2 separate regions of the Homo sapiens genome follow, and region 1 is linked to region 2. The links come from fine-mapping of genetic effects on gene expression. A gene starts in region 2. The other region holds a variant in brackets. All regions are shown on one strand. Distances are between the middles of the regions. Region 1 overlaps MYO9A (myosin IXA). Region 2 holds the start of MYO9A (myosin IXA).

Region 1 (11,556 bases), 290 kb after region 2:
CTCGCAGAGTGTTTCCATTTATTCTTATCATTCACCTGGTGTGATGGAAATACACTTGTTATCCTAAAAGAGCAATGTAAAACTGATGCAGTCACTCAATTTACTTTCTAACATGAATTTTTCTCTGCAGGGAAAGGGGCGTATTCGTCGAGGAAACTATCCAGGTCCATCGTCTCCTGTTGTAGTTCGGTTGCCTTCTGTGTCTGATGTCTCAGAGGAGACCTTGACTAGTGAGGCAGCCATGGAGACTGACATCACAGAACAGCAGCAAGCAGCTATGCAGCAGGAGGAGAGAGTACTGACTGAGCAGATTGAGAACCTACAGAAGGAGAAGTGAGTATCCAGGAGGAAGGGGAGAGACAGTTATAGTCTGTTTTTGTTTCCTTCCTTCTATCGTTTCTTTATTTTTTCTTATTTATTATCTCCTGTGTGTTAAACACTGTGTCAGATGATACAGGAGATGTTGAGATGACAAAGACGTGTTGTCTATACTCAGGTAACAGTGTGAGAGTTGTTCCCTCTGGGAAGCCAGTTCCATGAGCTGGGAAACCTGAGGCTGCTACAGTGATGGTCTGTAGAGGCTGACTGGGAGGAGGACACAGTATCCACAGGGCATGTCAGTCTTAGTCACGATTCATCTAGCAGTAACAGTGGGGAGCCAAGATGAGGTACTGGAGTCCTAACAGGTCGGAGACCAGCCTCCATGAACAGATTTATTTTGCAAAGAAGAGAAGGAATTCTTAGGCTAAGCCAAAGTCCCTTTCAAGAATGGGCATTATTCACAAATCCATGAAGGAAGGTTATTAGCCAAAGATCCATATGACCATGGGAACAGCAACTAGATGGTCATAGTAAGGCTATAGCCCTAGAGGGTGCTAGGATACTAGATAGGGAAATTGGTTGCAATTTAGGAGAGAGACAAATGAGAAGCTCTTTTACCTCCATTCATCACTGTTGCAGGGATTGGGTGACAGTATGCCTTGGGGATAATATGAACGTGCCATGGTTCTCCCTACAGGTGCTGTGTAATAGTTCTGGTCGACATTGATGACTCTTAGGAAGTCTTAATGGGATCTTTATTCCTGAGTTCCAGGATCCCAGGTCTTGAGTTTGGTTTATAAGGGGATATAAGACTGTTAAAATACTTTCTTGGTCTCTCATGATTGATTCTGGAATATAGGCCAGCTAAAAAAGCAGCTGGGGCTCAGCTGTAAAAAACATGATAAGGCAAAGATGATGTACATTGACCAGGGGCTATTTGCTAGAAGAGTGATCTGAAAAGAAGACCCAGTTTGGCTTTGATGCAGATGATATTGGCAGTCTTGAAGGATTAATAGGAATTTTCAAGGAAGGGGAGAGTCTCTAGAAAAAGAAAGAAGAACGAGCAGAGTCTCAGAATGCACATGGCCTCAGACAATTGTAATGCTGGTGATACTGTTCTTGAAATGATTGTTCATGGATCTCAAGCCAGGTAAAGGGGAAGTAAAGGTAAGGGGCTCTGTTAGGGAAGAGACTTGATTAGAAGGTGAGTAAGAATTGGAAGGATAAGGAGGTTGTGAACAGGGTGGAGTGTTGGATTCAGAGTAATGACAAGCTCCAGGATCTGTGCATTGGAGAAAGTAGCTTAGATAAAGTAGAGGAGAATATTGTTAGAAGTTGCAGACATAAAGGAACTTCAGTGTTAGAATATTCAGATGAGTTTTTACAAAGATATTAATTGAATAGATCAGGTGATGTCAGGCATTAGTGAAAAAGCAAGATTAGGATCTGAGTACCAAAGACCTCACAGAATGTGGGGCATTACTGAGAGGTAGCTGGGTGACCGTGATGAAGAAGGGAGACTAGAGAATACGACAACTGAAGATGGCATAAGCTTCAAAGGACAGAAAAGATCAATCAGTGTTTTTCTTCGTCTAGAGGTCTCTGTGGTGAAGATAGAGGGTATCGTCTATAGCCAGTTAGTAAGCTTCATGGAAAATAGTTTAAGAGCTGGAAGGAATCTTAGAGGTTATCTAGTTTAATCTCTTTGTTTTGTGGTAGGAAGCTGAGGTCCAGAAGAGAAAGGTACTTTCCTGATGCATTATGGATATTATGAACAAGGTTAGAGCCCTGATCTCCTGCTTATCAGTCCAGAGTTCATTTTACTGAAAGATCTCACCACTACATCTTTCTTCACCCTACCCTTACCCCTATTATTGGTCCTAGATTGGCTATCTGTCATTTTGTCCTTTAGTCCATATAGTTTTAGCCTTCACCATATTTGGCATACAGGTCCTCATCACCACCTGGATGGGGACAGTAAAAATGGACTCTCTTTGCTTCTTAGATTCCTGACTTCCATGGAGGATCTTTTTTTCTGTTATCTTCCTTCCACTTCCTATCAAATGCTAATGGTTTCTTGATTGTGTCTTACAGGGAGGAGCTAACATTTGAGATGCTTGTACTGGAACCCCGTGCCTCTGATGATGAAACCCTTGAGTCTGAGGCCTCCATTGGGACTGCTGATAGCTCAGAGAATTTGAATATGGAGTCTGAATATGCTATCTCTGAGAAATCAGGTAAGTGAACATGGTAGACCAAAGACTCCAGATTTGTTTTGCAAAGGAGGAATAAAGATTCCAAAACTAAGACAAAGTCTTTTAAGAATTTACTGACTGTACATCAGCAATAACAAAGTCTTGAGGAATTTTGTCCTTTTATCCATATAATTTTAGCCTTCATCGTTTGGCATACAGGTAGTGACCTGGATGGGGATAAGAAATATAAGGGGATAAGAAATATAATTGTCTTTGCTACTTAGATTCCTGACTTCCACGGAAGGTCTTTTTTTTCCTGTTGTCTTTGTAAAGCTTCCATATACATTGTTTATCAAACCAACTCTTCAACGTGATTGAGTTTTTTGTTTTTTGTTTTGTTTTGTTTTGTTTTTTGGTAATTTAATGTTTTATCCTGTACTTACCACAGAGAAAAGCCAATAATCACAATATATGTTGTCTTACTGACCCATAACCCATTTTCTGAGGGTGGCAGGCATTGTGCCCCCACTGTGAGGTGGGACTATATACATATACAAAGGAGGTGTTTAACTGGGTGGCATGTCTCAGGGAGATGTAGGACTTACCTGCATATCCTGGCAGTTTTTGAAATGATAGTGACTGTTCTAGGCCTCCGCTGATGGCATAGTCAAACACCAGATTTCCTTGGAGATGATTC[G/A]GAAATGCTACATAGAGAAATGGATGGTGAGCTCTTACTGTGACTGTGCCCATAGTAAGTCATCCTGGACCCTCTGAATCTTATCCCACCCAATTTCATGTGTGAACAGTGGCATCTATTCATTATATGATGATTTGCTTTAGAGGGCACTGTCATTTACATCTTTGGTCTCTTTTTTGCATTAGAAAGAAGCTTAGCCCTTAGCTCCCTGAAGACAGCTGGCAAGTCTGAACCTTCCAGCAAGTTGCGAAAGCAACTTAAAAAGCAGCAAGACTCTTTAGATGTCGTGGACTCTTCGGTCTCCTCTTTATGTCTGTCTAACACGGCATCATCTCATGGGACCAGAAAACTATTTCAGATTTATTCCAAATCTCCATTCTACCGAGCTGCCTCAGGTAATGAGGCCCTGGGAATGGAAGGACCATTGGGCCAGACCAAATTCCTGGAAGACAAGCCTCAGTTCATCAGCAGAGGAACCTTCAACCCGGAAAAGGGCAAACAAAAATTAAAGAATGTGAAAAACTCACCTCAGAAAACCAAAGAGACCCCAGAGGGGACAGTCATGTCTGGCCGCAGAAAAACTGTGGACCCAGACTGCACCTCCAACCAACAGCTAGCACTCTTTGGAAATAATGAATTTATGGTCTGAACCGGCAGATGTGTGTCCCTCCGTGGCTACAGAGTGGTAAACAAATCTCACCTTTGGGGCTGCGTTTCATCACCTCGTCCACAATAGTCAATCCTAATTGTGGTCCTGCCTCTTTTCTAAGCATATGGCTAAGACTGTATGTGCTGAATTCCTGGGCCTCCTGCAGAAGCAGAAAGCCTGCTGGGGATGGTGCCAGCTGTGCCTTGGCTGTTGTATTTGAATTGAGATTTTTACTATACAAAGCCACCTAGGGCCTGGGGATTTGGGTCAGTTGTAGTTGCCTCTCCCCCACCCTCTTTTCCCTTCCCAAAGGTGGGTGTTGAACTAGGGGGGATATTGCTGTCCTGAGGGACCCTCTCATTTCTGACATTTGAAGAAAACGTATAAATCTTTCTTAACCGTGAAAGCAAAAGCCTTTGGGTTTATTTTGGGATAGTTAGGAGCTAGGGTAGAATATAATTTTTTTCCAAAAACTTACTTACAAACAAAAAGCCTAATCCCTCTATTTTAAGATTTCTGAAAAAACACTCCATGTTATATTCTGGGGAAAGCAAAAACAAAAAAAAAAAACAAAAAAAAAAAAACAAAAAAAAACCGTGATTGTTTCCATTAAGCCATCAGAGCGTGTCTCAGATATCTTGTTATACAGTGAAGAAGAGAATACCTATTTTTTTTGATGATGTTTGATGTCATAGTAATCAGTGCTGGTTTAACTCCTGTTTAGTTCCTGCCAAATACATTGCATGGGCTGAAGTGTCAGTAGCCATACTGTTCTCATGTTTCTTGGTCCTAGGATCAGATTCTTCTACATTATTTTTTAGTTTCCCAGAGACATGGTGATCCCTAAACTTATGAAGGTTTCATCCTAAGCCATTCAGGCTTTTCTCTTTGTATAGATTAAACCGAAAACCGCATATGAGCCTGTTCATCTGCTGGTGGATTCCCACCACAGACTCAGACTCAAACAAACAAACAAATAATGTGACCGTTTAGTTAGTTTCCAAAAACATTCACATACAATATTGCATGAATAAGTAAGTAAGTGTTACAGAAAGCTGCCAAAAAATAAAAAGGTTTTTAATATGACCTATCTAACTAACTAACTTTTATCTTCCTTTTCTCAGACTATCAGTATTAAATAGATGGAAAAAAATCAAGGACTACTTGAAGCTATTTTTGTTAATATTCTGGTTACTGAAGTTTATTGTAAATATGTATGTATAGTAGGCATATTTCTTTTTAACCTTGTGCTTCCCTCCTTCCCATGGAATTTCTTCCCACAGATGAGGGGCCACTGGACAGGGGGATGAGAGCCATTCGTCCCTGGGTTGAGGGAATTAGTAAGACATCATTTTCACCACTGGGTGGTCTTCATACACATGAGTTATAATAGCATTTTAAGTATCTTAGCATTTGTGGGATTAGAAATCTGTTTTTGCTATTTATAATATATAAAAAATGAAACATGATAGCCTTTCTTGAGATAAGTATGTGAAATGTTTATTTTTAAAGTTACTAAATGCATCTTGTCTTGCTACTACATGCACTGCTCTGAAAAAGAGCCTTTACCATCTATAACCTGTATTTTGGGTATTCTTCCTTTTCATACTTCTTTGAAGTTGTGGAAATATTAAGTCTTTTGTTAAGGCAGAGTCTCTCTCTCCTGTTACACAACACTGAACCTCACGCCACTGCCTCAGTGGTTATTGGCCAGCCCCAGAGGTTAGACTTGGAGCATAATTCTGAGTGGCAGCTAAAGGTAGCAGGAGTCTTACCTCTCCCTACTTTGGGTTCAGAATTGAGCCAGAGAAAGGAAGCCATTAAAATCTCCAGAATAATGATAGTTAATGAGCAAATGTTATGCTTTATATCCCACAGACATCTGCCACCTTGTTCATCTTGTCCTGAGGAGTAATAAATAATGTTAAGCTTTTAAAAATCTGAATTTCAGAGAATCTCCTAGAGGATAGAGGAAAACCCCTCAGCATGGTGTGTTAGAGTGGGATTGCTGGTTCCTCAGCCCCGTGCCAGGTTGCACAGTCTGTGTTTCAGTGTTCTTGGGAGAGTAGTGTACTGCTGGGCATTAATTGTTACTCTGCACTTGCTCCAGAATGTTGGTTAAATCCTGTATGAAAAAAAGAGATTGCCCTTATGGAATAATTTCCTGTGGCCCAGAGGAATGGCCAGAAGAACATATGTTGGCACATGTTCTTCCTTCTAAATCTTTGTGGGGCTTTTTTGGCAAAATAAGTTTTTTGGCAGTTAAAAAACGACTGATGTAGGTCACTTTAAAGGAACTAGGTGATGGATGTTAAGAGACTTTATAATTTTTCTCAGGGACCTGAAACTCCAGTTTGGATAAAATTCAATTAAAAAAACTTGTTTTTTCAGTTGCTAGATTTGTGGATTTCTAGTAATTTAATCTGCCAGGATTGGGGTGGGTGGGTGAGGAGGAGAGAGCCACAAAATGATAAGAGTGGAGAGCAGTGTGGGGCCCTCCCTTTGAGGGAAAGCCGTTGTTTACATAGGGTAGTAGGCCTTGTTGGCCTGATCAAGAGATGAAGCCATAACTCTTAAAAACCTTCAGAACCAAACGCTGTGTCTGCATCCATCTGTTCTCACTGGCCCTCTGCATGGTAAAGTTATGTCACCACAAAGTGATGCCGCATTACAATCACTTATGAAACTGTTAGCCCTTAATATGCATCACATTTGTGGTTCCATAGTGCTTCTCCTTTGCTTGTTTGATCTCTGCATGGCAGCAGTGGGGCAGCTCCACATTTGGAGCCCATACTCCAAAATGCAGAGCACTCTTCTCACAGCACACATTCCCAGCCCCAAACAAAACCTGAATTTTCAACTCTGCCCATTAAAGTGAATGTATCCCTGTAATTTAGTATGTACTTATTATGGAAAATGTAACAAAAGCAGAGAAGTGTGATTTCATTCTGTATCACAAATTGAAGCAAATCAACAGCAAATACAGCAGGATTCAGGGAGGCTTAGTTTACAACGTACTTTGTACCTCCTGCCATTTAAATTATTTTGCCACTCTGGGCTTCTGAAAACACAAAGGGAGATACAGCCCTCCAACTATGAGCCTTGCAGAGAGAGACAAAAGGGCCAGAGGTCCTGGGATGGAATACTAGAGCCCCCACCTTCTCATGCTTTGGAAACCTGCCAGAGCACTTACCCTGCTGGAAGATTAATGAAGACTCCATTCTGTGTTTCATAACAGTAGCGTTGTTTTCTCCATCAAAAACAGAGGGTCACAGAAATGTGCTGAAAAGATGTGGTCCAGCAAGGTTCTGTAGTCCCACCTCAGTGCCTGTGGGCTGTGTTTTTCACTGTAACAAGCACTTTGGTAAACTAGAAAGAAGAAAGGATTCTCAGGATGTGTTCAAAGCTAAGAGAGTTTTCATTTTAAAAAGAAACATACATACTCACTCCATGGCTTTCCTCATCCTCCTCTCTTTTTTCTTCTTGGTGGGAAGCTGGATGCGGGGCATGCATCATTCTGTATGGACAAATGTGTTATGTCCACCCATACTCTTGTGACAACTCCCCAGCACTGTCCTGCAATACCATGCTGGCCTTGGTAGTAAAACTCCTTGGTATCTGTGAGAGTCCTCTTTTTCTATGCCCTAGACTACTTTTAACCACTTTTCTCTGGAATGACTCCCACATTTGATTGGGTATTGAAAGGGTAACAGCAAAATGATGATTGTGGAGATGGATCTATTAGGTCTCATGTTGGTCCCCTGGTTGAAACTATTTTCAAAAAAGCCCCAACAATGGGCCTGTCACCTTGCTAGTCATCCATTCTTAATGCCTATTTATCAGCCCTCTGAGGTCATATAAAAGTTGCACCTTTTGAACCAAGTATTTGTATTTACTATGGGAAAGGTGTGGACTACAGATTCGTATTATATTATTTTAATGGATTTTAAGTAATTTATAAGTATGCTGAGTGTAAATTTTTTTTAAAAACTGTATTATAAAAGGACATATCCTGTGAAATATAACATTTTACTGTTTAATAGAATAATTCTATAAGAAGAATGATTTATCTCACCCACGGAACTGATTACATTCCGGATGCAATCAATAGGCACTTTGTAATTTCCTTTTTGTTTTTTTTTCTTTGCTGGGGGGTTGAGGGGTAACAAGATACCATCTGTATAAAGTGCAGTTTGTGTCACTCAAAATATGCACTGTATGGCTACACAAAAGCAGCTTGATGAACAAATCACCCCATGGCTCATTAAAGAACAAAGCTTCCAGAAGCAGCAATATGTGTGGTTTGTTTTCCAACCATCCTGGCTCCCACTCCAACTATTCCAACCCAACTCCAAGAAACAGCAGTGACTTCTTAGTTACACTGATGTGTTTTCAGGAAAGGACTCAACCCAAAGTTGACAAAGCACAGAGGTGGTAGTCACTGGAACTCAACTGAATTCAAGTGAAGGTGTGATTCAAGGTGTCGTTTTTTCTGTAGTGGATGCAGGCTGCTGGCTGTCAAGACTTCATTTAATCGGTTTAAGGCTAGAAGGGAGGAAAAGCAGTAAATCTGCATTTAGGATCCTCCCCTAAATTGGCCACTTGAAGAAGTTGCTAATAGAGGTTGCCAATAGAGGGCCCAAGGATTCTCACTGAAATTCAAAGCAACACATTGCAATAGGAACAGAAATTTTAACTCAGTTTGTCATTTTTGTTCTGCTACCAACTTTACTGCATGTCTGGGAAAGGCATTCGCTCTCTCTGAATGTTAGTTTTCTTATCTGGAAGTCAGTTCTGTTTCCCAAACTCCCAGCTTTGGAGAACTCCTACTGACTCGCAGGTTTTAGTATAAAAGGTAGTTGTCCTAGGAAGTTTGCTCTGACCCTGTGAATTGGGTTAGAGGTCTGTGTTCTCAACAGCTCTCAGTTTTCACAGCGTCAAACACTTACCTGTCTTGCTGACTCTTAGATCCCAGCACCTAATAAAAGGTGCTGGCTAGGCAGATATTGGATGAGAGGATTGACTAGGATCAGTGGTTCCAAAATGCCAAATCAGGTCTGAGGTTACATGGGGAAAAAAACATGTCCCTAATGCCAAATGTATTCAATTTTTAAAATTCTGGGGTCATCCTTCTCACTTGTTTTTACGTTACATTTACATTTTCATTTTTGCATTAAATTTATATTACATTGAAATATGAAGTGTTAATTGTTTAAAATTCCCTTAGTTGCCCAAATAAAACCTAGAAATACCATTTTTATTTATTTTTATTTTTTTGAGATGGAGTCTCACTCTGTCACCCAGGCTGGAGTGCAGTGGCACAATCTCGGCTCACCGCAACTCCCACCTCCCAGGTTCAAGTGATTCTCCTGCCTCAGCCTCCCAAGTAGCTGGGACTACAGGTGCCTGCCACCATGCCTGGCTAATTTTTGTATTTTTAGTAGAGACGGTGTTTCACCATGTTGGCCAGGCTAGTCTCAAACTCCTGACCTCAGGTGATCTGCCTGCCTCGGCCTCCCAAAGTGCTGGGATTGCAGGTGTGAGCCACCACACCCAGCCGAAATACATTCTTAAAACTTGCCCCTGAGATGATTACTGAGAAGACAACTATTGTGATTATGAAGACCTGAGAACAGAAAGGTATATAAGGAGAGGCAAGTTATAAAGTGACCACAGCTTTGGTTTGGTTTGTTTTTTAAATTGCTTTTGCCCCTAGAATGGGTGGCAGTACAGTGTCTTAGAGCCAGAGATATAAACATGAAAGTAGATAAAGTACATGTAATATCTGACTGTTGAATCTTGTAGGTATCTCAGACTCACAGTCAAGGAGTGTGTCACTTCCAGGTAGTGCCCACAGGCATTGTCCTAGGTGCTTAGGGTACATTAGTGAACAAAACAAAGATCTCTGCCCTGTGGAGCCTGCATTCTAGTGGGGAACACCAGTGATGTCCACCAGATAGAGACTAGTCATCCATGATACCTGGGTTTGACTATGAGGTTGCGCTTCTTGGCATCTTTGAGTCTTTCCCTGCCCTTCCTACCTTGAAATATCCCCTTGTGGGTAGAGGAGTGTCTCGTGAATCTAAAAACTAGCTTTATTTGAAAAGAAAGGCCCAGATAGTCCCACAGGGACTACCTCTGTGGTGCTTCATAGCCAAAGATATTTCTGGCATTGAGGGGGAAAAAAAAAAGCTTTCAAATTATCTACCCTCCTAATAAGGACCCTAAATGCAATGGAAAAGCCATTACTCATCAGAATTTCTGTAGAGCCAATCTACAACAAGAAGTTGAATAATGGCTGCCATCATCCTAGGTGGTTTACAAACAGGAGTTTGTATTCTTGTCTGTAAGACATGCTGAGAGCTGTACCAGGTTAGGAGAACAGAGGCCACTTTGTATTCCAGGTGAGATGGACTTAATACAGAAATTAGGATCTAACAAAGGTCAGAGATATTCCCACAGGTCAAGAAAGCCAACGCAAATCTCAGCTACAAGTTCCAGAGGAGTTCTCAAGAGCTTGCCTGGAAGCTAGTGCAATTCTAGCCAGGAGGCTGCTATGAAATCTATTTTCCCACGACAGGGCTGCAGTGTCTCCAAAGAAAAATGGCTTCTCTTTTTCCTAATGCCAAATTTAATCAGTTTGGCATTAGGGGGGAAAAAATCTCCTGTGAGTGTCTTTCATTAGCAAATCCTAGGGGAAAGGGTTTCTGGGAAATGTAGTTCCTTCCTGGCATCTCTGCAGTGAAGAAAAGCCCTTAGAAGTGGGGGAGGGGTGGTATTGATGCCCGATTGACAGCAGACAATCCAGCTTATGTACTTCCTCTAATTCTCCAAGACTTCTTGGAGAGCCCTCAAATCTCCTTCCCAATGTAGATGTGCTGGGCTCACACATCCCAGATGCTAGCCTGTGAACTTCAGCAGGCTACCTTTGCAGTCTTACCATGTCCTCCAAAGCCAAACTGTAAGATACATACGCAGGGCTGGTCATGTCATATTTCAACCATGTGTCTTACTAAGGTGGCTTTGCTCAGGGCTTAGCTCATATGGATAAAACTTTTGATAGGGAATTGGACTGTATAATGGCATTATAGACATTAGTTGACCGATTAACTGAGGCCACTCTGATACTTTGAAAAGTTGGAGAGAATCTGAAGTAGCCTAGGGGCTGAAGTAAGAAGGGCTTCAGCTGGGCAGCATTTGCCATACTCTTTCCTCTCTGGCACCAGCCCTAGCGGTTCTGAGTTCCTGAGTAGATAGGGCATTTCTGTCAGCTAAGGGAATTCAAACACAAGCCAAAGGACAGGGAACCCCTAGGATTTCTCAGCCTTCTCACATGACCCTTTCTGTCTTGATTTCAAACACTTATCCTTTGAAGGCAGAAAATGCAACAGAATTGTTCAGTCTTTCATTCCAAAAGTGAAGGGGAAGTTGGGAAAGAGGCGGTGCCAAAGTTAAGCAGCATTAGGTAGAGTCACACCAAGGTTTGAGTCCTCTCTAAGCATCAGTTTTTTCACTTATAAATGGAGAAAATTGGCTCTTCCCTCAGAGTTAATCTGCGGATTAAATGGCAATTTAAAAAGTGCCCGGCTCACTGCCTGCTATTAATATATACATTGCCTGATCTATGTTAACATGTTAAAATATTATTTTCACAGTCATCTGGGTCTATCTTCAAAAAGGATTAGGTTCACACC
Region 2 (16,474 bases):
AAAAAGAAAAAAGATTACATGGTTAATTAAATTAGGAAATGCTAACTCCTAATGCACACACACACACTAGAGGCTAACGAGAGTTTGGCGATAAAAAATTTTAACTTTTTTTCGTATGATCTTTTCCCAAACTTATTTAACCACGAAATAGTCTTTCTTTTTTTTGGAGGAATATCTATCAGTACTTTATTATCTGTATATTGAAGTATGGGATATGCTTGCTGGATTTTTTAATAAGTAGCATTGGCACAACTTGTTAATTATTTGATTAAAAAAGTAAAGAGTTTTACCTCATACCTTACATCAAATTATATTTTAGATAGAATACAAATTTAAATGTTAAAAAGTAAAAAAAAAATTGTTAGAAAATATTAGTTAATACACTTACATGACTAGTCAATAAACACATGAAAAGACACTGGACATCAGAGTAGTAATCAAATAAATGTAAGTTAAAATAAAATTTCATTTTTTTACCTGTCAAGTTAGCAAAGGTGAAGAAAACTAATAATAATTAGCATTGCTGAGAGATTATGGGAAATGAGTAAATGATGCCCCATTTTGATAGGACTGTCATACATGCAAGCTTTTTCAAGGGTAATTTGCCATTATATTGGAATTCTTAAGAAATTTATATATGTAGGTATTATACTTTAAGAAATTTAACTTAAGGGAGACATTAACAATGTGTGCAAAAATTCAACAAGATATTCACCATGGCAGTATTTGTAACAGAAAAACTGGAAACAATCTGGAGTTCAAAAAAGGACTGGTAAATTAAACAACAGGGTTTCCACACGATGGAATAGTTTTCAGCCATTAAATATAATATTGTCAATACAAATTTATTAAAAGAAAAATGTTCATAATATGCTTTGATATAAACATCTGTATATGATAAAAATATACAGAAAAATAATCAAGAACGATATCCATCAAGTGTAAATATCATTTTAAGAAATAGGATTAATACTTTTTTGCCTTTTTCCTTCTACCTTTTGATATTGTGCTTTAATTTTTCCCCCTTTTTTAATAATGAACACATAATTAGTAAATACAGTGATTTCCATATTGAAGAGGAATAAAAGATGTACCAGTTCCCACTCTTATAATGACATAAAATATTTCCATTTTTTCAACTTCTGAGTCTTACTTCTGTCCTCTGGATAAAACAGGTAAATCTAATCTCTTTTCCATAAATGTTCAAACACAAATATTTAAAAATAATTTGATGTTTACTAAAATTAGAAGATTATGTCCAACTTCTAATGTCTGATTCAACTTGCACTTTCACAAAAAGAATCACATCCAAGACCAAATATGCTTTTTATGGCAAAAATATTTCCAGGAAGGAAGTTCATGGCTTTTTTTTGGGGTTTCAATTTCCCCCCAATTAAAACGTTTCCTTTTAAAACTAAGCCTAAGCCATCTGGAGATCTGTATAATGTGGCATGTAAGAATGACCATCAAGATTTATTATATAACCCTCTTGAGTACACAGATTAGATTTTACTCATCCTTCTAACTTCAGTGCCTGACAAGCTAGAGTTTTAATAAATAAATATTTTTCCTGAGTGAGCAAAGTACAGAAGTGAAACATATCTTGAAAAACTCAGGAAAACACAACACAGTTATAAATGTAAGAAATATTCTCAATTTTATAAATGAGCTATGAATTTAAACAACATTCCTGTAACATCAATATTTCAGAGAGGAATTCAGCTCTCAAAGTACAAAACCTACTTGGTGTGATGATGATGCTTGGTAACTCTACTGCTATAAATTCCACTTTATTCTGTCTGGGGCCAAGGAGATAAAACAGGTGACTTTTTAGGATTTCATCTAACACCAAGGCTCTCCATTTATTGCTCTGTAACTAGGCACAGCTATCAATGGCTAAGGTGTCATTGACCATGAAAATAATTTTATTCCTGGTCTACCATTTCTACCTCAAGAGTTCCATTTGTAGGCTGGGTGCGGTGGCTCATGCCTGTAATCCCAGCACTTTGGGAGGCCAAGGCGGGTGGATCACCTGAGGTCGGGCGTTCTAGATCAGCCTGACCAACATGGAGAAACCCTGTCTCTACTAAAAATACAAAATTAGCCAGGCGTGGTAGTGTACAACTGTAATCCTAGCTACTCGGGAGGCTGAGGCAGGAGAATTGCTTGAACCCAGGAGGTGGCGGTTGTGGTGAGCCAAGAGCACGCCACTGCACTCCAGCCTGGGGAACAAGAGCAAAACTCCATCACAAAAAAAAAAAAAAAAGTTCCATTTGTAATTGTGTCACAGTTTTTGTCCTCAATATAAACCTGGTGTATACCAAGTTTTTCTTGTGGTGACTTTGTTTTGCTTCAAATTTTCTGAGAAATGACTTTACACAATTGCAAACTTTGAAATGACTAGGAGTGAGGGTCAGGTGTGGAGAGGCCATTAGAATTAATAAGACGTCTGTGTAAGATAATATTTTATAAAGGTGTAGACAGAACTTTATTTTAGTACATGTGGTAACAAAGTCTGATAAGGAGTGGTTAAAGCCATGATTTACCTCATTTCACAGATAATCACTGTGGTCAGCACATGGCAGCTCTATGCAAACACACTATTTGAAAGAACACAAAAAAGCTATGATCTTTTAATCTCATTTGTTCTAAGGATTTCAAATCCTGGCAAGTTATTTTTTTCATAGATAGTTAAGAGGTAAATTGTCATTACAAATTGCTCATTAGTGGGTTTCAAAAATGTGCCTGGCACATAGTAGAGGTTCAATAAATATCTAATGAATTAATGAGTAATGAATCACACGACTTTGAGAGTTTTATTCATTGGCCATCAGGGAAAGCAAGCCTAAGGTTTTCAAACAATAATACAGATGCTCAAAATAGTAACTATAGTTGGGACAAATTTTTTGGGATCAAGACAATGATCCAGTGCTTTTATAAGTTGATTGTGGAGTAAGCCATTTAATTGGGAGCCAGAGAAAGGAACTTTCAGAAATTTTCTGTAAGTAATAAAAATTATTAAAAAGCCTCATAAAAGTATTATTTCTGATTTCAGATAGACCCACTCCTCCTCCTCCCGCAAAAGGTGTCAGATAGCTGAACCTCAAGTTCTGCATAAACTTAATTCTTCCTATCACCACCCAAATGGCCTCCAATTATTTGATGGACAGAAAGTCAATATAGGCTAGTTATGTTGAAGAAGGTGGTAATGGTGGCCTCTCTGAGAACCTAGTTCTGGAAGTTAATTTTATAGGACTCATTTGGATCAGTAATACCTAAACCCCAAATTCAATTTTTTAGAATACATTTAAAAAGTACATACTTTGGGTACTAGCTGGATTTGAGCAGTAAGTTTCTATAGTCCGGTATTGATCAGTTTCAAAGGAGATGGGTTGCCTGGGCCTTGAGGACTTCACATTCTTTTGCTAATGTGTTTAAACTAAACTTCTTTCCCATCCAAGAAGTTTAAGGAATTGGCAAAAAGAGAGGAGTTCTGACTTTTAAAAGTCAGAAATGTAGGACTCACAGGTATAGACAGGTATATAGACAGTACATACTTTGGGTACTAGCTGGATTTGAGCAGTAAGTTTTTATAGTCCGGTATTGATCAGTTTCAAAGGAGATGGGTTGCCTGGGCCTTGAGGACCTCCCATTCTTTTGCTAATGTGTTTAAACTAAACTTCTTTCCCATCCAAGAAGTTTAAGGAATTGGCAAAAAGAGAGGAGTTCTGACTTTTAAAAGACAGAAATGTAGGACTCACAGGTATAGACAGGTTCTGACTTTTAAAAGTCAGAAATGTAGGACTCACAGGTATAGATGGAGTTTGACTGAGGAAGGCCTTGGCAAGATCTGTGAACTTATGGTAAGGCCATTGCTTTATTAGAAGTACTAACAATATCATTTATAATACAAAAGACTGGGCTAGCCTCTTGACCACATAAAGTTAACTGACTCCCACACTGGGGTATATATTCCTGTTGACAGGTATGCCATTTATTCCAATGTATGTTACTCTAGACTGGTCAGCACATTGTGGAAATAAAGGAATTTAGCAGACTCTAGAGATCACCTCAAGATTTTTTTTGGAGACAGGCTCTCTGTCACTCAGGCTGGAGTGCAGTGGCATGAACACTGCAGCCTCGACCTCCTGGGCTCATGTAATCCTCCTGCTTCAGTCTCCCGTGTAGATGGGACCACAGGCAGGCACCACTATGTCTGGCTAATTTTCTTTTTTTTTTTTTGGAGAGACACGGTCTCACTTTGTTGCCCAGGCTGGTCTTGAACTCCTGGGCTCAAGTGATCCTCCTGCCTCAGCCTCCCCAAGTGCTGGGATTACAGGCCTGAGCCACTGCACCTGGCCCAAGATTCCATTTTTCAAAAATTAATTAACTTATTGTTCTAGTCTCTTCATTCCTATCTTCTCTTTTGATAATCTAACCTGCACATTATTCTAGATTTTCAAACAGAACTCTAATCACATTATTCTACTCCAAAAAATTTTAACAACCCTCCATTGTCTACCAAAGTAACTACAAATTACAGCCTGGCATTCAATGATTTCCACAAAAATAGCCCCAATCTACCTTTCCTGATTTATTTTCTGGTATTACTCTCACAGACATATACACCCACAAGCTCAGTCCCTCTGCAGGCCCTGGTTATTAGGAAACAGTGGGATAGTACTGGTTGCTGCCCCAGAGCCAGCCTCTCATCCCAGCAGAGAGGTTGGGAAGTGAACACTGCTTCATCATTTTTCTGAAACACAGATTTGATGTCATGCTCTTGCTTAAAACCATTATACTGAGATATTTTAAAACTTAGGATCCATAGACCAGGATGTGGCTAGAATATCAGGGTTCTGTGAACTTAGACTGGGAAAACAATTGCATCTTTGTTTTCAATAATCAGTAGCTGAAATTTAGCATTTCTTCAATAAGTGTGGACCACAAACTACAATATTAGCACTCTCTTTTTTACCAATAGAAATCTGATATTTTCACATCACATTAAAGTTGCTGCAGGCATTTCAAAATATAATTTATAGTCATCACTACTTAGAAATTATATAATTAGACCTGCTGCCAGATTTTATTTAATGCATAAAGTGCATATATATCACACATTTGTTTTAATATTTTAAAAACTTAACAAAATTAGTTTCCTTTATATTACTACGTATTCTATTTTATATATTTAAGAACATTTTTCTGAGACTGAATCTATAAGGTGGACTGCCAACAAGGTCCACTGGGTAAAAGAGGTTAAGAACCTTTTTTGTACTTATTAATTACTTCTAGTAATATAATCTAAACTCTTCACCATGGAATTCAAGGCTCCTCATAATCTGTTCACACCCACTTTATCATCTTCATCTCTGTCCCACCTCTACTCTCCATACTATGCTCTAGCCATACTAGACAACAATAACTCGTTCTTATCTGGGTCTGATAGACAGGTTTTTGGATTAACCCTAGTTAATAGATAGCAGCCATACACTGTCTTGGTCTTTACCTCATACAGCTTCTCTGCCTGCCAAGTGAATTCTTTGTTTAAAGGCCTGCTTTCCCTAATACGGTAATTTTCCATCCTAATTGAGCTGTATTTTAAATATCTTTATATCTCATTACTAACTTAAATGATAAATAATAGAAAAAGATTCTAAATTGGCAAGGCACTGTATGTAGTAATCTCTATGAGAGTGGATGTTGGTCTTTGCATCTCATAAATTGGCTTAGCTCTGGATGTTGGTCTCTGCATCTCATAAATTGGCTTAGCTCTGATCATTTTGGGGACAGAAGTGGGGATGGCCTTTGAGCTTTAAGGCTGGAGACAACAGCTGACCAATCCTGGACGGAAGGGAACGGGAGAGCAAAGAGACAAGTAACTAATTTGGACCTGATAAACACTGAGGAATGAACAGTGCTGAAGAGAAAGGCAAGAGTGGCTCCTTCTCCCATTTCCCAGACCAGTTATTCCAAACATAACGCCGCTCAAGTTTCTCATTCCATCTCCAAGCCTCTCTGTAGTTAAATGACCTCCATCTTTTTTTTCTGGGGGCGGGGACGGAGTCTCGCTCTGTCACCCAGGCTGGAGTGCAGTGGCGCGATCTTGGCTCACTGCAAGCTCCGCCTTCCGGGTTCATGCCATTCTCCTGCCTTGGCCTCCCGAGTAGCTGGGACTACAGGCGCCTGCTACCACGCCCGGCTAATTTTTTGTATATTTAGTAGAGACGAGGTTTCACCATGTTGGCCTGGATGGTCTCGATCTCTTGACCTCGTGATCCACCCGCCTCGGCCTCCCAAAGTGCTGGGATTACAGGCGTGAGCCACCGCGCCCGGCTAAATGACCTCCATCTTAATGTTACAGAGCCAACTGTCTCAACTTCCTTCTCTCTAGTTTAGTGAGTCTCAATCTTTAGCATTAGAGTCACCTGTGGAGCTTTAAAACAGTAATGACACCTGGCACAACCCAGAATTTAATTGGTCTAGAGTGGGGCAACAGTATTGGTTTTATTTAACAAAAAGTTTCCCAGGTGATTCAAATGCACATACAAGGTTGCGTTCCACTAGTGATCTTGATCTTATAAATTAGCCTCCCTCACCCTCGAAGAGGCCACTTCTCGGTTTCATGGTACGCTTTTGAGTCTTCTACCTAAACAGAAAACATTCCTGAGGGCCATATTCTCGTTCCTCATTTCTCTAACTTTATAACGATGCTTCTTTAAAGGGAAGTCTACACTAGTACGGTTTCCATCAGGTTTATTTTACTTCTTTTTTCTCTTTCAGACCACCACTGTCACATGCTCTTGCGCCCGTTATTCTGCTTTTACCTCCTTTCGTATTTCTTTGACCAGGTACTGGATTACTAGTCTTTTAACACAGTCCTCTAAAAGTGACCCAAAAGTCACCCTGGAAAGGGCTTCCTCACGTTATCCTCCTACACAACCTGGGACCCCTCTTCTGTGCGCAGACAGCATCCCGTGCATTTTTCTCTATTGTCACTTTATTGTACTACCACTGCGGATTCTCTCACGGTCTCCTATACAAAAGCACTTCAAAAAGCTGACACCACTTAATTCGCCTCTGACATTCTGGAACCCAAGGCATGGAAACCACTCAGTGAAAAGTCTGAGAAATGAATGGAAACGGAGGTCGGGGCGGGGACAATGGAGGGGGCAGTGGGTGGAGAGAGCGTGCGTGTTTGAAAAGGGGCGGGGGCTATGACCGGCGGCGCTGAGAATCCAGGTCCAGAATCGGGAGGGAGCACGGATACGCCAGAATCTGAGTGGGTGGGAGAGCGATCCACTGCCGAGACAAACCGAAGTGGGGAGGAGGCTTCTTACCTGCCTCGGGCCTCACCACCCCAACCAGCCTTCAGGCACCTCTGTGTTGGCCGGAAAGCGACAGCTACGGTCGCAAACTCAGAGGTTTCGTCCCCAACCTTGCGACATCCCTTTCCAGTACAGGGAGAATCTAAAGCTGAGTTCCCTGCTCTGCCGTAAGGTGAAGAAGAAAAAATTTGGGCGGGGCCGCCTGGGGCGTAGGAAAGGGGGCGTGTCTGCGCAAGCGCACGCTGTACTCTCCAGTGGCGTCACGTGCGGGGGCGGGACAGGGCGGGGCCGACCCGTGCTGGCAGTAGGGGGCGTGGGAGGTAAGTGCGCGCGCGCCTGCTCGCCTGCAGCCGGGGAGTCGCGCGGGGCGGGGCCGCGTGCGCGGGGTCGGGGGCGCGCGACCGAAGCGGATAAGGGACGCGGCGGCGGTTGGCTGTGTCTGTTGAGAGAGTACAGGACAGCCCGGACTGCGAGAGGCGGCGGCGGAGGCAGTAGTTGCACCGGCAGAGGCGGCCGCTGGCAGCGGTTGAGGCGGCGGTCCAACGCGTGCTCTCTGGGCGGGGTGCGGCGGGGGATGTGCCTGCTCAGGCCGGGCGGAGTCTCTCTGACAGGGCGGGGGATGCGCCGCGGCCGCTCGCCCGGACCCTGAGGCTGCTGGGCCCACCCTCCCGGAACCGTCCGACCCTCGGTGGCCTCGGCCTCTTCTGCCATCTCCGGTCCTACCCTGGGGCGGAGGGTGGAAGGCAGCTTCCGTCGAAGAGGAGGGGGCTGCGGTGGCCACCGCGGCGGAGCCCGAGGTAAGACCCGCCCAAGCGCCCAGCGGCCCTGCAGCCCGTCCTGGCCCACGTCTCAGCCTCGCTATTTGGCTCCGGTCGGGCCGCCCCGCCCCGTCCCAGCGGAGACGCCCCGCGAGCGGGTCTGCGCCGAGCCTCCCAAACACCAGATCACGGCCCCGGATCCCCAGTAGACCCCACCCCCTGTATCTTCCATTGGCCGGGCACCATTCCGGCCCTCCAGCCTCCCCGGAGATTCTGTCACGGTCCCCCCAACCCAGCAGACCCCATTAGTACCCCTCAGAGTCCCTTAGGACTCTTAATGGAGCTTCTAGACTACGTTACATCCTCCCTTGGGCTGACGTGATTACAGTTCTCAGGCAAAGTCTCGACCGCCCCCTAACCCATTGCGTCCCCCATGTGCCCCTCGCCCTACTCTTCTTAGTAGAACCCCTCCCAGCTCGCTCATCACCAAGCCGACTAGCACTAACCCTAGCCATCACGGCTTTCAGATAGCCGCTGTCATGGTGTTCTTACTCCCGGTAGATGTGGTGTCAGTCCCTCTAGACACCGTCACAGACTTTGGCTTCTCTCCCACCACCGACTGTAGCCTCTCTCAACAGACCTCTCCTCAAGCAAACCTTGTTATCTTTCTCCTTAGTCGCGATCCTTTCTTTGGTTGAAAGGGCTTTGCCATGAAATCCTGAGGGAATATTTGCTTAGCCTAATGTATTCCCTCCATTGTGGCTTAAGGGGACCGACCGAGACCCATGTTTGGAGGGGTTGGGCTGAAAAAAGTGGGAGGCAGAGTGAAGTTATGGAAGCATGAGGCCAGTTGTGTGTGTGCCATTATAAGGTCACAGAGCCTGCACCTCGTCTTGTCTGTTCTGTGTAGAACGTGTGAGGTTGTCCAGCACTGATGTTTTAGGGACCTCTGTAAGGATTAAATCACGTTGCACTAGTGGATATAACTATGTCGTCTTGTAGTATTACTTCACCTCCTTGTCGATTGCTGCAGATACTAGAACTGTTTCTTATTTTTATTTTTAAAGGATACTAGGGGACTTTTTTTGGATTCACTGTTTTTTGGATTTGCTAGAAAAATAAGATTTGTAGCATTCCTTAATCCCTGAATGCTTCGATGTCGGTTTAATAATAAACTTCTGTTGCCTGGTGCTGCTGTCTTGCTTCTCCAAGAAGCAAGTACAGAAATCATGCAGTGTTCACTGAGGTCATTACCAACAACAGCCTTCTCAATAGCAGTAAAATGTTGAATAAAATGTTTGTAGAAGTTGAGCTCCTGAGTTGTCAAGAAAGAAATGTAATGTTGCATCAAATGATCAGTACGTAATTTTAATATTGGTATAAAGATGAAATATAAAGAGGTCTTTGTAGTCATACACACACACACAGTAAAAAATGTTAAAGTAACAGGAGAAAATCACATTAAAATTATAGATAATAACTAGACGTAAAAGCCAAAAGTTTCGGAAGAGTAATGTAGTAAAAATTTCTGTTCCGCCTTCACTCTCCAGCCACCCATTTTTCCTCTTTAGAGGCAACCACTATTTCCAGCTTCATGTGTATCCTTTCTGTGATATTTCCAATATATAAACCTACACATTTATATTTTTAAGACACTGTACACAAATGGTTGCATACTTTACATTCTATACATAGCCTGTTTTTTTTACTTAATACTACATCCTAGAGGTCATTTCTTAACAATACATATGGAAGTGCCTCATTTACTGGCTGGATAGTATTCCATTTTTGTGGACTGGAGGTTATTTTTGGTGTTTTGCTTTTACCAACAATGTTACATGCTTTTCTTTTAAATGTGTCTGATGTTATATGTATGTTTAAATAATTTTGTGAGTTGAAAAAAATTCCTGATGATTCTTTTATGTTGAACCTACAGAAAGGATGTAACTAAATTTCTCATTGAACCTCTGAGCTTCCACAGTGTGACTAGCTGTGATGATGATTATAATATTTATTAAATTATTGAAGGATTTTAAAGCAGGGGACTGGAATGATCAGATTTGCATTTTAAAAAAGTCATTCTGGCTGCAGTGAATTGAAGAGTAGAATAAGACTAAAGGCCAGGAATATTAGGGTTATCCAGGCAAATGGTGAGACTGGATCTGAACTTGGATATTCGGAGTTGAGTTGGTGATTTTATTGTATTTGGGGTTGGGGAGAAGTTGCATACAGGATAAAATCTAGGTTTCTGGCTTGTGCCTTTCACTGAGGTGGGGATTCCCATGAAGGAGTGGGATTTTGTTTTTATTTTGTCAAGGAGGAAGGATAGAGGGGTTAATTTGTGACATGTTCAGTTTAGGTGACTGTAGTTCTGTCAGATGTAGATGACCATTAGGCATTTGGATTTGTGGCTGAAGCTCAGTATCAGGTTCTGGGTTGATAGCAGTAGATTTTGGAGGCAAAATCATACAGAAGGGAGGAGAAAAGGTTTTAGGATGGAAACCCAACATTTAAATTACAGGTAGAGTTGAATATTTAAATTAGTAAATTACATGATTAAGTGCCTTTAAAAAACTTATTCTAGTTTAAGCATTAACAGTGAGATTCACTATCTAATATATGAATTTTTAACAGTTGTTTTCCCTTAGTTATTTTAGTAGTATATAGTTCCTGAGGGAAATTGGGTAAACTTAGATTTTTTTTAACAAGTACCTCAATAGAAGTTAGCGATATAAACTCCATCTTTCCTAATCATTTGGATTATACTATGTGGAAGTTTGTTCAGTCTTTAATAGCAGAGAAATGTAGGAGGTTTGAAAATATGATTTGCCAAGAATATTAAGGTTTTTAGTTGGAGTGATTTTTGGTTATGTTAACTCAGTTTGAAATAAATATTAGTCAAAGACTTTTCAGACATTTTAAAAACCACAATATTGACTTAATGTATTGATTCCTAAGTCTAGAACTGCTGTCTAGAGTGCTTGCCTTTGCTCTAGACCCCTGTAAAAGCACTGCCTAATGGATATCACCACTTTGATTCACATTTCACAAACACTTCAATCCAAACATTTAGGAAACAAAACTCTTCCTGCCTCTTTTCCCCCCACAAAAACAGTGGAGAGAGAGCCGGAGACAGAAACTGCAACAAAATTTTTTCTTCCCCCCGATTTCCTACCTTGATTAATGGCACCACTCTTTCCTCATGAAACCTTCAGGAACCTGGGAATTGCCCTCCGCTTCACTCTGTACTTCACTGCCAACATCCAGTCTGTCACTGCCTTGTACATTTTCCCTCATGATATTTCAGGTCATTCCTTATTACTTTTTGTTGCCTCTATCTTATTTTAACTGAAAATATCTGTTTGTTGGGCTTCTGTAATGCTGAGTGGTCTTCTTGCCTTCTGTCTTCTGCCTCTTGTCATGCCCTCCTGTTCATTCTCTTGACTGCTGTTGGAGTAAGTATTCTAAAATGCTCTTTTAGTCAGGCTCTTTCACTTGGAGGGAAGAGACTCAAGTTACCTTAAGTAATGAAGTGCTTATTGAAAGGAACCATACACAAGGGAACCCAGGAAAAGTTAACTTGCTCTCAAGAAGAAAAAGAACCTAATAAAACTTGCTCTCAAGAAGAACAAGAACCTAATAAAGCTGGAGACCCCACTCCAGTGCTCCATTGTTAGCTTGTCCTAGATACCGTTTCTTTCTTCAGTTTTTTTCCCCCTATGTCATAGCTTCCATTTATTACTAATTTCTGCTCCTTATAACTACTATGTGACCCCCATGCCAACATCTTGCCTCCTGGCTGCAATTGTTTTAAAACGTTTTAAAAGAGGTTAGCTCCTGTTGCTAACCTCTTCCTTTTCCCTAGGATTTTCTGGTTTGAATTCCAGATTTGGCTCAGCTCTTTTTCTCATTGATTGCTAACAAGTCTGTGTACTTAGGTTATGTCACCACTCTTGGCCATTTATTGTTGGCTGTGTGTTTGTATGTATATATGGGTATCAGGAAAGATCTTAATGGTGGAAAGTATGGGACAGTGTGCAGGCTAATTTACCGCAAAATGGGGTTGTGAGCATGGCCCACACCATAATTTTGACATGTATAGTACAGATAAAAATCAAATCATGTCCTTTCCTATTGAATAATCTTCAAAAAAGCTGTCTCATTGCTTTCAGGATAGAGTTTAAACTGTAGCATGGCATGTGTATGAGATCATTCATGATCTAACTCTTAATTCTCTAGCTTTTCTTCACTTGCTGTCTTCCTTACATACTTTAATCCACTCTTACTGACTTTAGGCTTCCTCTCAGGTAATGTGCTTTCTCTCTCGTCTTTTACATTTGATGTTCTATTTCCCTGATTTCCACTTTCCCCTTTCTTTGCTTGGCTAATTTCTGTCTGACCTTTAGGATTCAGTTCAGGTGTATATTCTTCAGGAAGATTTCCTTTACCTCTTTTCAGATTAAGTTAGGTACCATTCTTATGTGCTCCTGTAGCACATAGTAATTACTTCTATCATAGTCCTCTAATGAAATAGCTTAATTACTTGTCTGTTTTCTTCACTAGGGTTTGACTACTTTGGTAAGAGGGATGATATCAGTGCTTTTTAGTAAAACAAGTTTTTAGATTGAGCATTTTAAAAAATATAAGTTCAGAAAAAATAGGGTCTCACTGTGTTGCCCAGGCTGGTCTTAAACTCCTGGACTAGAGCCATCCTCCTGCCTCAGCCTTTGAAAGTGCTAGGATTACAGGCTGAGCCACTGTGCCCAGCCTAAAAATATAAGACTTTATAAATTATAAAATATACAAAAAGTACACAGCTGGTAAATATATAGCTCAGTGAATTTTCACTAAGAACATACCAGTGTAACTAACATCTACATCAAGATATAGAATATCACTAGAACTCTACAAGCTGCCTCATGCCTTCTTCTAGTCACTAATCCAGCTCATAGAGGATTTAATTTACATGGGAAACCCTTTAACATATAGGTTTCTGTACCTATTTTGTGTGTATCTTTAGACATGCAAGGAGTGTAGGTATTGGAATTTTGATCCTGTAGAAAGAACATACCTAATTTATGTTATAGAAACAATTATGGCATAGTTTCATACAATAGACAAGTTCAAAATAACATAATACTACTAAGGTTTATTTGTGAGATGTTATATTTAGGTAGGTGTTTTTGTTTTATACATTTAATATGATTTTAGAGTGGCAGAAAATAATATGATAGAACAAAGTATATTTGCTGAAAATGGCCTATGAATTATGAGTGGTAAATATGCTTGGGATAGGTATAGTAAACATGTAAAGCACTTTCCAAATAGTGTTAGGCCTCTGGGTTTTAATGTGAATTATGTTGCTGGCGTATTTTGGCAGTGGGGTCATCCAGCGGGCAACTGAAGTGTAATTTTACATGTACAGTGAGGAATGGACTAGCTGTCCTGTCATAGACAGCTGGCTTGCTAAAAATTGTGTGTGTTTTTTTTATTTATTTATTTTTTTTTACAATTAGCAATAATTTTGGAGCATACTTTTTCTCAGTTTTGATTTTTCTTAAACTGTAAGATTGTGTAGCTCTTTGAATATATAACTGTATTCTTTTAAATATTCTTTTTCCTTAGATAGGCTTTTATATCTGTGAATCTTAAATCCATTAAGTGGAGAGAATATGGATTCTCAAACCTAGATTTCTAACAGACCTGGATTCAAGTTCTAGCCTTATAACTTTGGAACTGTCATTTATGGGCAAGTCAGTTAACGTTTGAGAGCTTGTCAGAATTTTCATCTCTCAATTGGGGATAATTGGGAGGCAGAGGTGGAGGTAGGAGGATCAGTTGAGCCTAGGAGTTTGAGACCAGCCTGGGCAACATAGGAGACCTTGTCTCTACAAAAATGACAAAATTATTATTAAATAGCTGAGTGTGGTGGCATTCACCTATGGTCCTAGCTACTTGGGAGGCTGAGGTGGGAGGATCACTTGAACCTGGGAGGTCGAGGCTGCAGTGATCTGTAATCATGCCATTGTACTCCAGGCTGGGCAACAGAGTGAGACCCTGCCTCAAAAAAAAAAAAAAAATTGGGGGTAATATTTGCCTCATAAGACTATCATTGGAGTTAAAAAAATTTTTATGTAAAGCACCAAGCATATAGTAGGTACTCAGTAAGTCTTCCTTTTCCCTCTTGAATACGTCTATTTCCTGTTTTATTTATTAATTTTTTTTTTTTTTTAAGACAATCTCACTCTGTCACCCAGGCTGGAGTGCAGTGGCGCAATCTCGGCTCACTGCAACCTCTGCCTCCTGGGTTCAAGTGATTCTCGTGCCTCAGCCTCCCGAGTAGCTGGGACTACAGGTGCACGCCACCATGCCCGGCTAATTTTGTATTTTTAGTAGAGACAGGATTTCACCATATTGACCAAGCTGGTCTTGAACTCCTGACCTCAAGCGATCTGCCTGCCTTGGCCTCCCAAAATGCTGGGATTATAGGTGTGAGCCACTGTGCGCAGCCTATTTCTTGTTATGTTTAAATGTGAAATCAATAATTTTTTTTTTTTTTTGAGATGGAGTCTCGCTCTGTTGCCCAGGCTGGAGTGCAGGGGTGCAATCTCGGCTCACTGCAAGCTCTGCCTCCCAGGTTCACGCCATTCTCCTGCCTCAGCCTCCCGAGTAGCTGGGAATACAGGCACCTGCCACCACTCCCGGCTAATTTTTTGTATTTTTAGTAGAGACAGGGCTTCACCATGTTAGTCAGGATGGTCTCGATCTCCTGACCTTGTGATCCGCCCGCTTCGGCCTCCCAAAGTGCTGGGATTACAGGCGTGAGCCACCATGCCCGGCCGAAATCAAGAATTTTAAGAATTTCACTGTGTGGCTTTTAGAATAAATGGCTAATCAAAGTTTGTTGCTAAAAGAAGCAGATATTAGGGCAGTCTGTCTACTAGTTGTCTTTCAAGTGTGATTTTTTTCAGTTAAAATATTTCTTGTGGCATTGGGGCATTTAAAAAATATTTTTGAAAAAATACTGCAAAGAAATGCTTCTCTTGATGTCTTAGCATATAAGATTAATGGATTTTAGAATGTATTTGATTCAGTGTGAGTTATCATAACAAAATGTGTTCTGTTTGTCAATGACAAACATTCCTTAAATAATTGACAGATTTTAGTACTATTGCTGTTTGTAGTGTGTAAGTATTTGTTTGAAATCTGTTTATTTTTATTGATCAGATGATAGTGGGCTGAGTAATCTCTGGAATTTTCTTTTTTTTTTTTTTTTTTTTTTTGAGATGGAGTCTTGCTCTGTCTCCCAGGCTGGAGTGCAGTGGTGCAATTTCGGCTCACTGCAACCTCCGGCTTCCGGGTTCAAGTGATTCTCCTGCCTCAGCCTCCCAAGTAGCTGGGATTACAGGTGCCTGCCACCGTGCCCAGCTAATTTTTGTATTTTTAGTAGAGATGGGGTTTTGCCATGTTGGCCAGGAAGGTCTTCAACTGCTGACCTCAGGTAATCTACCTGCCTCGGCCTCCCAAAGTGCTGGGATTACAGGTGTGAGCCACCACACCCGGCCTGGAATTTCCTTTTTGTTTTTTTCTTGAGACAGCATCTCACTGTATTGCCCAGGCTGGACTCAAGCTCCTGGGCTCAAGCAGTCCTCCCACTTCAACCTCCTGAGTAGCTGGTACTACAGATGTGTGCCACTACGCTGCCTGGCTAGATTTTTTTTTTTTTTTTAATGTAAGGGAGAAAGTTCTTAGGTGACTGTGTGGACATGTTTATAAACGATTTTTAGATTTTTTTTGCCTTATTTATTTATTTATTTTTTTGTGAGACAGAGTCTTGCTCTGTCGCCCAGGCTACAGTGCAGTGGTGCGATCTTGGCTCACTGCAGCCTCCACTTTCGAGGTTCAAGTGATTCTTGATTCTTGTGCCTCAGCGTCCCAAGTAGCTGGGATTACAGGTGTGTGCCACCACACTCAGCTAATTTTTGTATTTTTAATAGAGACAGGGTTTCACCATATTGGCCAGACTGGTCTCAAACTGCTGACCTCAAGCGATCCGCCTGCCTTGGCCTCCCAAAATGCTGTGATTACAGGCGTGAACCACTGCACCCGACTAATATTTTTGTCTTATTTTGCTTTTGCAACTCTGTTTTCTTTTAGTTCTCTTTCTTCCCTCCCCTATTGTTTTATAATTAAGATCTTAAAGAAATAGAAAAGTTGGAAGAGAACACTAATTATGTCTATCAACTAGATTCAAAAGATAGCGTTATGCCATCCATATTTGCATTATTGTTCCCTGTGTGATTGTGTGTGTGTATTTTTTTTTTTTTTTTAGACAGAGCCTTGCTCTGTCACCCAGGCTGGAGTGCAGTGGCATGATCTTGGCTC

What was found. PIP is the estimated chance that this variant, and not a neighbour inherited with it, causes the effect.
Region 1: its variant is fine-mapped to the expression of MYO9A in blood mononuclear cells (TOPMed, PIP 0.99).

The regions. Positions count from the first base shown.
Region 1 is chr15:71,818,886-71,830,441 of GRCh38, reverse strand. MYO9A (myosin IXA) reads left to right here. Exons shown (of 42, transcript NM_006901.4): 40 at 131-333; 41 at 2,416-2,558; 42 at 3,399-8,151. The coding sequence ends at 3,862. Among named protein-coding and RNA genes, the nearest start is that of NR2E3, 14 kb to the right of the region's middle. The variant G/A (reference allele first, on the strand shown) is at 3,214.
Region 2 is chr15:72,109,334-72,125,807 of GRCh38, reverse strand. MYO9A (myosin IXA) reads left to right here and starts at 7,658. Exons shown (of 42, transcript NM_006901.4): 1 at 7,658-8,128. It overlaps SENP8 (SUMO peptidase family member, NEDD8 specific), which reads right to left and starts at 7,405. Exons shown (of 2, transcript NM_145204.4): 1 at 7,344-7,405. RefSeq lists a silencer at 7,537-8,306 and an enhancer at 8,507-8,716.